Regions from separate parts of the Homo sapiens genome. Here region 2 is linked to region 1. Evidence: fine-mapped expression QTL. A gene starts in region 1. The other region holds a variant in brackets. All regions are shown on one strand. Distances are between the middles of the regions.

Region 1 (5,371 bases):
GAAGCCTTGGCTGGGACCCTGCCACATCCAATGTCACCGGCAGATGGGTACACCCCCTTTTCCCCATGCATGGATTCAGCTGTCCCACAGACACATTGACTCAGGCCCTTGGAACTACTTCCTGTCTTGCCTTAGCACGTAGACATCACACACATGCATCCACTCAGGTGGGCAGTCTCAGGCCCTGCTCCCACTGCTGTGCTCAGCGTGCATCCAGCTCACTCAATAGATGGTTTCTGAGCATCGAGGTCATGTCAGCCCTGGCTCTAGGTCTGTAGGTGCTGGACCTACAGCAGAAGGCAAAGACACAGACTGGCAAAGACACAGCTTGTATCCAGGTTCAGGGGTCAGGGAAGGTCCCTCTGTGCAAGCAAACTGTGGAACAACGGGTGGAGCAGGCCCAGCAAGTGCAAAGGCCCGGAGGTGGGAAGCGATGCAGATATGGCTGGAGGGGAGGGCGGACTTCAAGGGCCTTGGAGGTTGGGAGCCACTTTCAGGCTGAGCCTCCCGGCTTCTCTCCCCAGCATCCCGGCGGCGCAGGCGCAGAGGAGAGCGAGCTGCAGGCCTACATCGCACAGTGCCAGGACAGCCCCACCTCCGGCAAGTTCCGCCGCGGGAGCGGCTCGGCCTGCAGCCTTCTCTGCTGCTGCGGAAGGTTCGAGTCCCGGGTCTGGCACATTCAGATTGGAGGTTAGGGAATGGGGAAAGGGGAGCGAGCCAGAGAAAACTGACGCCCCTCTTCCCTGCTTCCTTCCTCCAGGGACCCCTCGGAGGAGCATTCGCTGCTGGTGAATTGATTCGACCTGACTGCCGTTGGACCGTAGGCCCTGGACTGCAGAGACCCCCGCCCCCGACCCCGCTTATTTATTTGTAGGGTTTGCTTTTAAGGATCGGCTCCCTGTCGCGCCCGAGGAGGGCCTGGACCTTTCGTGTCGGACCCTTGGGGGCGGGGAGACTGGGTGGGGAGGGTGTTGAATAAAAGGGAAAATAAATGTGTCGTTTTCATTTTTAGCGGGAGGAGCAGTCCTTGCGTTAAGCGGTGTGAGGCCCTTTAAGGCGCGGCCACACTCAGCATGGCGGCCTCAGTCGGCCTTCCAAGCATGGCGCGGGGAGGAGGGGTGGGAGGGTCGGGAGGGACTGCGGTGCGACTAGGAGTGAATAATTTAAAGGGGCCGTGCCTGCGGAGCCGGGCGGAACGCTAGCGGTGTTGGCGCGGAGTGGACCCCGGCTGCGGCCCCTGGGTGAGTCTGGGTTTCCGTTAGCCTCGCAGGGGTGTCCCTTCGAGGGTCGTTAGCGAGCCTCCGCTTTCCCACGATCTGTCCTCCGATTCCTGTTAACTCTAGACTTTCTGATGTTCCCATACCCCCCACGTCTCGGCAGGTGTTTCCACACCGGTAGCCAGCTGTGCCCTGAGGTGGAAGAGGACCGGCCACCCAGGAATTTTCCAAGTAACGACTCGGAGTCTCCGGGATTCCTATCTCCCGGCCCCCGAATTTCCATTAATATTCTAGCGATGTCAGAAACATCCTCAGCTTCCCAGAAAAATCCCAGTAATATTCCAGCATCTCTCAGTATCTTCCAAGGAGCCCGGACGCCCTCCCCAGGCCCGCTCTCATAAGCACCCCAGGAATGTGCCCACCCACCTCCTGGTTTTCCCAGCAGTAGTATTGTAATCCTCAGAATCTCAGTAACTTTCCAGTGACCCCGCATCCCCACCCACTAATCCCAGCGTCTCTGGTTACGCCTCCCAGCAATGGCGCCACCATCGGTCCCGGAGTCCCAGTGATGCTCTGTGCCATAGAGCCCCCATAACTTCACTACTACGTGATAGTAAATCCCCGGCAAAAACCAGCAGCGCCTTGCAAGCCCACGCCACCCCAAGCATCCCAGGACTCTTCTGAAACGTGGGTATCAGACGCCTTCCGCGGATGCCCCGGCAGTACTCCCGTGCCTCCCAGCTCCTGGGTCTTCCCCGGGGCAGGCTTGCGTCGGGAGCCGAGTATCTAGGTGCCCACTCCCGGACCCCACGGTTTGCGGGCCCGTTTTCCTGGGGTGGGGCATTCAGTCTTCGACGGAGTAGGGGGTGCGGCCTGGGGGGTGGGGTGGTCAGGCTTGATCAACCCTGCAGAGGGCAGTGACCCGGGAGGAAGTCACCAGGTGCAGAGGACCGTGCCCTGTGGGGACCTGCCTGCAGGCTGCTGACAGTGGGTACCAGGTCGGCCTTTGGCCCCGGGGTGGGGTTGGACAGGCGGGCGTCTGGTAGGCCCTACGCGTAGGCGAAGGGAGCAGGAAGCCGGGGACCCGCCTCATCTCCTGGCCAGGGCCGAGAGGTCGGTTTGCTCCATCCCTTAGTCCCGCAGCGCCCCTCTAGCCTCGCCCCTGGCAGCTGGAGACGCTTCCCCCGCCACCCCAGAGGGCAGGGCTTGAGCTGGGGGCAGGGCTTGAGGCAGGGGAGAGGTGGGCCCAGATTGACGACTTGCACGGGTTCCTTCGACTCCTTGATTTCCCAGGACTCCGGGCTACCAGATCGGCCGTCCAGCTGGAATCAACCGATGGAGGCTCCGCTGCAAACTGGAATGGTAAGGGGTGGGGCGGAGACCGGGTAGGTGCCGGCGTGGGGCGCCAAGAGGACTACAACTCCCGGCGTGCTCAGCGCGCATTACGTGGTCTGGCGATAACGCGCTGCGTCCGCTCGGGCGGAACTACGTTTCCCGGCATGCACTGCGGGCCGCCGGGCCTCAGGGAAGAGTCGCGCCCCCGGGGAGGGAGCAGCACTGGCCCATTCTGCAGATGGGGACATCGAGTCACGGGCTGGCTACGAACTCCTCGGGGGCGAAGGTGGCGGAGAGGGATGGGTTCCAGGACGTCCTGGCGCCCGGGGAAGGCTCGGCGGGACGGATTTGCGGTGCGCAGCCAGTGCCGTTCGTCCCTCAGGTGCTTGGCGTGATGATCGGGGCCGGAGTGGCGGTGGTGGTCACGGCCGTGCTCATCCTCCTGGTGGTGCGGAGGCTGCGAGTGCCAAGTGAGCACCCGAGGGGCCCCTCTTGGGAGGCTGTATGGTGGGGGGCCCAAATGCCCGGGTCCCGAGGCGGCAGAGATGGGGATTTGCTGGCGTCTGTTCGCGGTACCCCAGCTCTGGCAGGGTGGAGTCTGCACAGAGCTCGGAGTGCCCCTGTCCCCACCTATCCCCAGAAACCCCAGCCCCGGATGGCCCCCGGTATCGGTTCCGGAAGAGGGACAAAGTGCTCTTCTATGGCCGGAAGATTATGCGGAAGGTGAGTCCGGGACCCCTGGGGTCCGCCCTGACCACACAGAGGCCGCGCCCCTTCCCTATTTACACTTCTTAGTGTCCGCCACCGCTCCTTCCTTGATGGAGACCCCCTGGATCCGTCTGCCTCTTCTCCAAGGTCTGAATTAGCAATTCACCCATCTCCGCCTTCATTCTCCCAGGTGTCACAATCCACCTCCTCCCTCGTGGATACCTCTGTCTCCGCCACCTCCCGGCCACGCATGAGGAAGAAACTGAAGATGCTCAACATTGCCAAGAAGTAAGGCTGTGCTGGGTGTGACCTGGTATTAGGGGTTATCTCAGGGGCCTTTTGAGTAATCAGCTTACACCAAAGTGTTGTGGAAGTCTTCCCATATTGGCTGCGCGCTGTGGCTCATGCCTGTAATTCCCAGCACTTTGGGAGGCTAAGGCGGGCAGATCACCTGAGATCAGGAGTTTGAGGCCAGCCTGGCCAACATGGCAAACCTCATCTGTACTAAAAATACAAAAATTAGCTGGGCGTGGTGGCATGGGCCTGTAATCCCAGCTACTCAGAAGGGTGAGACAGGAGAATCACTTGAATCTGGGAGGTGGAGGTTGCAGTGAGCTGAGATCATGCCACTGCACTCCAGCCTGGGCAATAGAGTGAGACTCTGTCTCAAAAAAAAAAAAAAAAAAAAAAAAAAGAAGAAGAAGAAGAAGAAAGTCTTCCTGTTTCAGAGAGACATCTCTGGACTCTCCTCTCAGAGCTCTTCCACACCAGACATGCTGTCTCTAGGGTATCTCTTCCCTGAGGGCTACCTCAGTGACCTTCTCCTTCCACTGGAGTATCTGAGCTATTTGTTCCCAAGTCAATATCTCAGAGGTCTTGCCATATACTTAGTGGGGGGGTCTACATCAGGGGTTTCCATGTAGGTTATTTCATGAGTCTCTTCACATGAGTGGTTTTCTTCCAGGGTACCTCACTGAGGTAATTGTGTTTCTACGATCTCCTAAAGGGGCTATCTCCAGCCTCCAGCCTCTCTTCTCCGGGGGTTATCTCAGGCATCTCTGTACATCAGAAGGCATCTTTCCTATGTTATGGACCTTGAAGTTCTTCCCACACTAAGGAGGCTGTCTCAGGAGTTTCTGTTCCCTAGGGGCTATCTTATGAATTTTCTTGCACTAGAAATATAGGAAGGATGCATCAGAGATCCCTGTTGGCAGCAAGGTCTGCGAGAAAGGCTCTCCAACTCTCTTTGCAAGTTGGGTGCTGGCTCTGGGATCCCTGTGCGTCATGTAGTCTACCTGGAGGTCTGCCTCAAGGGTTTCTTCACACCAGGGCAGGGCTCTCCATGATCAATAGTCCTGCAATGGCAGTCCTTTCTTTTTTGTTTGTTTGTTTGTTTGTTTTTGAGATGGAGTCTTGCTCTGTCACTAGGCTAGAGTGCACTGGCACGATCTCGGCTCACTGCAACCTCCACCTCCTCGGTTCAAAAGATTCTCCTGCCTCAGCCTCCCGAGTAGCTGGGACTACAGGCTCATACCACCATGCCCAGCTAATTTTTGCATTTTTAGTAGAGACGGGGTTTCACCATGTTGGCCAGGATGGTCTCGATCTCTTGACCTTGTGATCCGTCCGCCTCGGCCTCCTAAAGTGCTGGGATTACAGGCATGAGCGACTGAGCCCGGCCAATGGCAGGGCTTTCTGTGAGTTGAGTAGAAGGACTATCTCAAAGTTCCCCATGATCAGTTGAGGGTCTATACCTCAGGTTTCTCCACATCACAGGAGCTGTCTGTAGTGTTTGCACACTCTTAAGGGACTACCCTGATATCTTCATGATTGTCAGAGGGCTGTCTGAGCTTTCTGTGACCTAGGGAAGAGTTAGCCCAAGATCTCCCTGATCAAAAAAGGAATAATCATAACAATTATAATTATTATTATTATTTTGGAGACAGGATCACACTTTGTTGTTGAGGCTAGAGTGCAGTGGCACAATCACAGCTCACTGCAGCCTTTACCTCCTGGGCTCAAGAGATCTCTCCTGCCTCAGCCTCTTAAGTAGCTGAGACCATGGGCATGCACCACCATGCCTGGCTAATTTTTAAATTTTTTTGTAGAGA
Region 2 (5,371 bases), 25 kb after region 1:
ATGTACGTACAAGAGGGACAGGTGCACACGTCCACACACACATCAGGGGACATGCAGGTGGAATGCAACACTCGTGTGCACACCAGCTATATATGCACATGCTTTCTCTCAGGGGCAGGTAGGGCTTACACACACGTGTACACACAGGCACATGTGCACAGATGAACACGTGTGTCAGTGAAATAGGGCATTTGCCAACGCATGCCAGTCTGTCCCGTTTGTCCTGCACGTTCCCTCAAACACGCAGGGATGTGCACACACGTAGATAGGATGCGGCACCTCTGACCGAGTTAAGTCATGCCTACCACCTTTATGGGTGCAGGTGAGAAGCGGGCAGGTACACAACTTAAAATCTCACACCCCAGAAGTGTGCATATATGAACAGACATGTACGCCAACTGCACACATGCTCACAATCTTGTAGGCCAGGGGTGGGCAAACTATGGCCCACAGGCTGAGTCCTGCCCTCTGTTTGATTGTATAAATAAAGCTTTATTGAGCTGGGCACAGTGGCTCATGCCTGTAATCCCAGCACTTTGGGAGGCTGAGGCGGGTGGATCACTTGAGGTCAGGAATTCGAGGCCAGCCTGGCCAACATGGTGAAACCCGGTTTCTACTAAAAATACAAAAATTAGCTGGGCGTGGTGGTGTATGCCTCTAATCCCAGCTACTTGAGAGGCTGAGGCAAGAGAGTTGCTTGAACCCGGGAGGTGGAGGTTGCATCGAGCCCAGATCGTGCCATTGCACTCCAGCCTGGGCGACAGAGTGAGACTCTGTCTCAGAAAATAAAACAAAACCTCCCAACACCTGACCCCCCTCCTCAACTTCAGTTGCATCATTTGCACGTCTGTGCATGACAGCATGGTGTTTGCATGTGTGGGTATTCTCTCTTTTTTTTTTGCGTGATCATTTGCATGATGGCATCTGTGGGACTGGGTTGAACATCTCTGCCCCGGGCCCCCGAGGGGAGCAGCCCGCTGACCCCCCTGGCCCCACAGCGGACATCGCCCGCAGCATGGGTGCCAAAACGGTCATCGCCATTGACGTGGGGAGCCAGGATGAGACGGACCTCAGCACCTACGGGGACAGCCTGTCCGGCTGGTGGCTGCTGTGGAAGCGGCTGAATCCCTGGGCTGACAAGGTAAAGGTTCCAGACATGGCTGAAATCCAGTCCCGCCTGGCCTACGTGTCCTGTGTGCGGCAGCTAGAGGTTGTCAAGTCCAGCTCCTACTGCGAGTACCTGCGCCCGCCCATCGACTGCTTCAAGACCATGGACTTTGGGAAGTTCGACCAGATCTATGTGAGTGGGCAGGAGTGGCATGGTGCCTGCATAGGTGGTCCGGCTAAGCTTTGCTACTTAAAGCCCAGAGTGGTATGAGGGGGAGGAATCCAGGAGGAATCCAGGAATCCCATCTGGAATCTCTGGAAAACAGATCAGTGATCAATTGGTGATGTCTGCAGGGGATGTAGTAGGGGTGTGGCTGTGCATGTGCTGTGTAAGAACTTTCTCCTTATAGGCCAGCTGCACCCCTGGAAGCACTGTATAGTGATTTCTACTGCCATTTCTGCATTGGTGGGAATGAGAATAGTGATGAAGCAGAAATGTCTGCCACAGTTCCAGGAGAGGGAGGTAGCAGTGCGTGTGTTATGTGCTACTGACCCTGAAAAATGTGCCATAGCCCAAGCCAATTGAAATTGATCAGGGGGCCAGGCATGGTGGCTCATGCTTGTAATCCCAGCACCTTGGGAAGCTGAGGTGGGAGGATTGCTTGAAACCAGGAGTTCAAGACCAGCCTGTGCAACATAGCAAAACCCCATCTCTACAAAGATTAAAAATAAAAAATTAGCTGGGTGTGGTTGTGCATGCCTGTCACCCCAGCTACTTAGGGGGCTGAGGTGGGAGGACCGCTCGAGCCCAGGAGTTTGAAGCTGCAGTGAGCTATGATTGCGTCACTGCACTCCAGCCTGGGTGACAGAGCAAAACTCTGTCTCTAAGAAAAAGAAAGGGCCAGGCATGGTGGCTCATGCATTTAATCCCAGCATTTTGGGAGGCCGAGGTGGGCAGATCACTTGAAGTCAGGAGTTCAAGACCAGCCTGGTCAACATGGTGAAACCTCATCTCTACTAAATATACAAAAATTAGCTGGGTGTGGTGGCACATGCCTATAGTCCCAGCTACTTGAGAGGCTGCAGCAGGAGAAATCGCTTGAACCTAGGAGGCAGTGGTTGCAGTGAGCCAAGATTGTGCCACTGCACTCCAGCCTGGGTGACAGAGTGAGACTCTGTCTCAAAAAATAATATTAATTTTAAAAATTAAAGATAAAAATAATAAAAATTTTTTTAAAAAGAAAGAAATTGATCAGTAGCTGCAGCCCAGAAGCCCTGAGTCTGAGAAGAGATGTGTGATGTCCCTTGTGGGCTCACTGGGATAGCATGCCATGAGAAATTCAAGATGTTTGCTGTGGGCTTGGGGATGGCGACATCCACAGATGTACTGCCTGTTTGCAGACTTCAAAATAAGCTCACACATCACCACCTTGTGTTATTTGCTACCCAGCACCCTGCATGGGGCTGTGTGGGAAAGAACATGGAGAGATTGATTGGTAATGTCTGTCAAGGGCAGGACAG[G/A]GGATGTGTAGGCGAGTGTGCTATGTGCAGCTGACTCTGAAATAGGTTTAGTCTCAAATGCAACTCCCCCAGAGAATCAGGCTTTTGAGGGGCCAGAGAATGGGCAGACAGAGTGGGGACAAGCAAAGCAGGGTTGCAGACATGGACCCAGCCCCTCATTTCCCACAGGATGTGGGCTACCAGTACGGGAAGGCGGTGTTTGGAGGCTGGAGCCGTGGCAACGTCATTGAGAAAATGCTCACAGACCGGCGGTCTACAGACCTTAATGAGAGCCGCCGTGCAGACGTAAGCCTGTGATGCCCCCAGGGCCACTCTGACTCCACTGATTACAGAACCCAAGCCCCCTTAAAGTCTCCCCGAAACCTCAGATGACCCCACATGTCCCTGGGTTTTGCTGAGCTCTCAGACCTCTGCTGACTTCAGAGAGTTCCCACCCTAGGATCTCCTCTGAGCCCCCAATGCACCACTGGGCCCCCCAGGGGCCCCAAGACTCTGTGGGCCCCCCCTAAGAGCCTCACCAGTGTCACCCCACAGGTGCTTGCCTTCCCAAGCTCTGGCTTCACTGACTTGGCAGAGATTGTGTCCCGGATTGAGCCCCCCACGAGCTATGTCTCTGATGGCTGTGCTGACGGTGAGGGGCCCAGGGGACCCCCCAAGAGGGAGGGGAGTGGCTGGAGATGGCAGGCCAGCCCCAATCCCCTCACCTGTGCCCTGCTCCCCGATTCCAGGAGAGGAGTCAGATTGTCTGACAGAGTATGAGGAGGACGCCGGACCCGACTGCTCGAGGGATGAAGGGGGGTCCCCCGAGGGCGCAAGCCCCAGCACTGCCTCCGAGATGGTGAGAGTGGGTGGCCCAGGGTCCCCTCACATCCCCCAGAGGGTCATGAGTACAGTGTCAGGCAGGGGAGCCGGGGGCGTATTTGAGATCCTGTGTGTGCTGGGTGCTGGCTGACATGTGACGCATCAGTGTCCCGTGCTGGGTGACGTGTGTGTGACCTTCCCTCGCAGGAGGAGGAGAAGTCGATTCTCCGGCAACGACGCTGTCTGCCCCAGGAGCCGCCCGGCTCAGCCACAGATGCCTGAGGACCTCGACAGGGGTCACCCCCTCCCTCCCACCCCTGGACTGGGCTGGGGGTGGCCCCGTGGGGGTAGCTCACTCCCCCTCCTGCTGCTATGCCTGTGACCCCCGCGGCCCACACACTGGACTGACCTGCCCTGAGCGGGGATGCAGTGTTGCACTGATGACTTGACCAGCCCCTCCCCCAATAAACTCGCCTCTTGGAAATGGCTTCCTGTCGTTTTCGGACTGGGGACCCACCTTCTGTGCTCAGGATGGCTGGGGCTGGGGTCTGACACCACCTGGTGCTTGCCCCCCACAGGGAATGCCTTTCTAGAATCCACACGGAGCCCCACTAGGTGCTTGTCCCCACTCTGCCCCTTCTCTGGCTCCTCAGAAGCCAGTGCTGACTCCGGACCACAGGGCCAGACATTCCGTGCCACCCTCCCGGGCTCACAGGTGCTCTTGGGGGCCCGATATGGCACCCCTCAATTTCTTTCTGTGTGTTTTTTGTTTTTTGTGTTTTTTTTTTTGAGATGGAGTCTCACTCTGTCACCCAGGCTGGAGGCTGGAGTGCAGTGGCATGATCTCTGCTCACTGCGACCTCCATCTCCCGGGTTCAAGCGATTCTCCTGCCTCAGCCTCCTGAGTAGCTGGGATTACAGGCGCCCGCCACCACACCCAGCTAAATTTTGTGGGGGGGTTTTTTGGTTTTGTTTTGTTTTTTGTTTTAATTTTTGAGACAGTGTCTCTCTCTGTCACCTAGGCTGGAGTGCAGTGATGCGATCTCAGCTTATTGCAGCCTCCAGCTCTTGGATTCAAGTGATTCTCATGCCTCAGCCTTCCAAGTAGCTGGGGCCACAGGCGAGCACCACCATGCCTGGCTAATTTTTGTATTTTTTGTAGAGAAGGGGTTTCACCATGTTGGCCAGTCTGGTCTCAAACTCCTGGCCTCAAGCCATCCACCTGCCTCAGCCTTCCAAAGTGCTGGGAATACAGGCATGTGCCACCACACCTGGCCTTAATTTTTGTATTTTTAGTAGAGACGGCATTTCATCACGTTGCCCAGGCTGGTCTCAAACTCCTGACCTGAAGTGATCTGCCCGCCTTGGCCTCCCAAAGTGTTGGGATTACAGGCATGAGCCTCCTTGACCGGCCAGAACGGTTTATCTTTTTTATGAGTGAATAATATCCCATTGTGTAGATGGACCACATGGTATTTATTGGTTCATCTGTTGGACGCTTGAGTTGCTTCCACCTTTTGGCTATGGGGAGTCATGCTGCTGTGAACACAGGTGTACAACTATCTGGATCCCTGCTTTCAACTTCCTTGGCTAGATGCCCGGGAGTGGAATTGTTGGGTTACATGGAGATTCTGTGTTGAATTGAAGAAACGCCAAACTTTTCCATAGCGGCTGCACCATTTTAAATTCCCACCGACTGTCAGTGCCTCGAGCTGTCAGCACCATGGACAGGGATGGTGCTGTCCGAGGTGCTACTGACGCCCCCTCTGTGTCTTTCCCTCCAAGCCCCCCCACCCCCGCCGATATCCCTGCGCCCTCCAGATCTCTGAGTTTTGAGGGTGGAGGGGGACATTTAGGGGAAAGTTCAGTCCATAGTTTGGCACCTACTGGTGTCTGTATCTTAACTGGCTCCCCTTCCATCCTGGCTCACAAGGCTCCAGTT

What was found. PIP is the estimated chance that this variant, and not a neighbour inherited with it, causes the effect.
Region 2: its variant is fine-mapped to the expression of PNPLA6 in lung (TOPMed, PIP 0.97).

The regions. Positions count from the first base shown.
Region 1 is chr19:7,532,999-7,538,369 of GRCh38, forward strand. PNPLA6 (patatin like domain 6, lysophospholipase) reads left to right here and starts at 2,719. Exons shown (of 32, transcript NM_001166114.2): 1 at 2,719-3,022; 2 at 3,193-3,275; 3 at 3,451-3,548. The coding sequence starts at 2,791. MCOLN1 (mucolipin TRP cation channel 1) reads left to right here. Exons shown (of 14, transcript NM_020533.3): 13 at 525-655; 14 at 761-1,011. The coding sequence ends at 797. RefSeq lists an enhancer at 2,554-2,793.
Region 2 is chr19:7,557,852-7,563,222 of GRCh38, forward strand. It overlaps PNPLA6 (patatin like domain 6, lysophospholipase), which reads left to right. Exons shown (of 32, transcript NM_001166114.2): 28 at 999-1,300; 29 at 2,797-2,913; 30 at 3,163-3,259; 31 at 3,357-3,466; 32 at 3,637-3,913. The coding sequence ends at 3,711. Among named protein-coding and RNA genes, the nearest start is that of PNPLA6, 25 kb to the left of the region's middle. The variant G/A (reference allele first, on the strand shown) is at 2,629.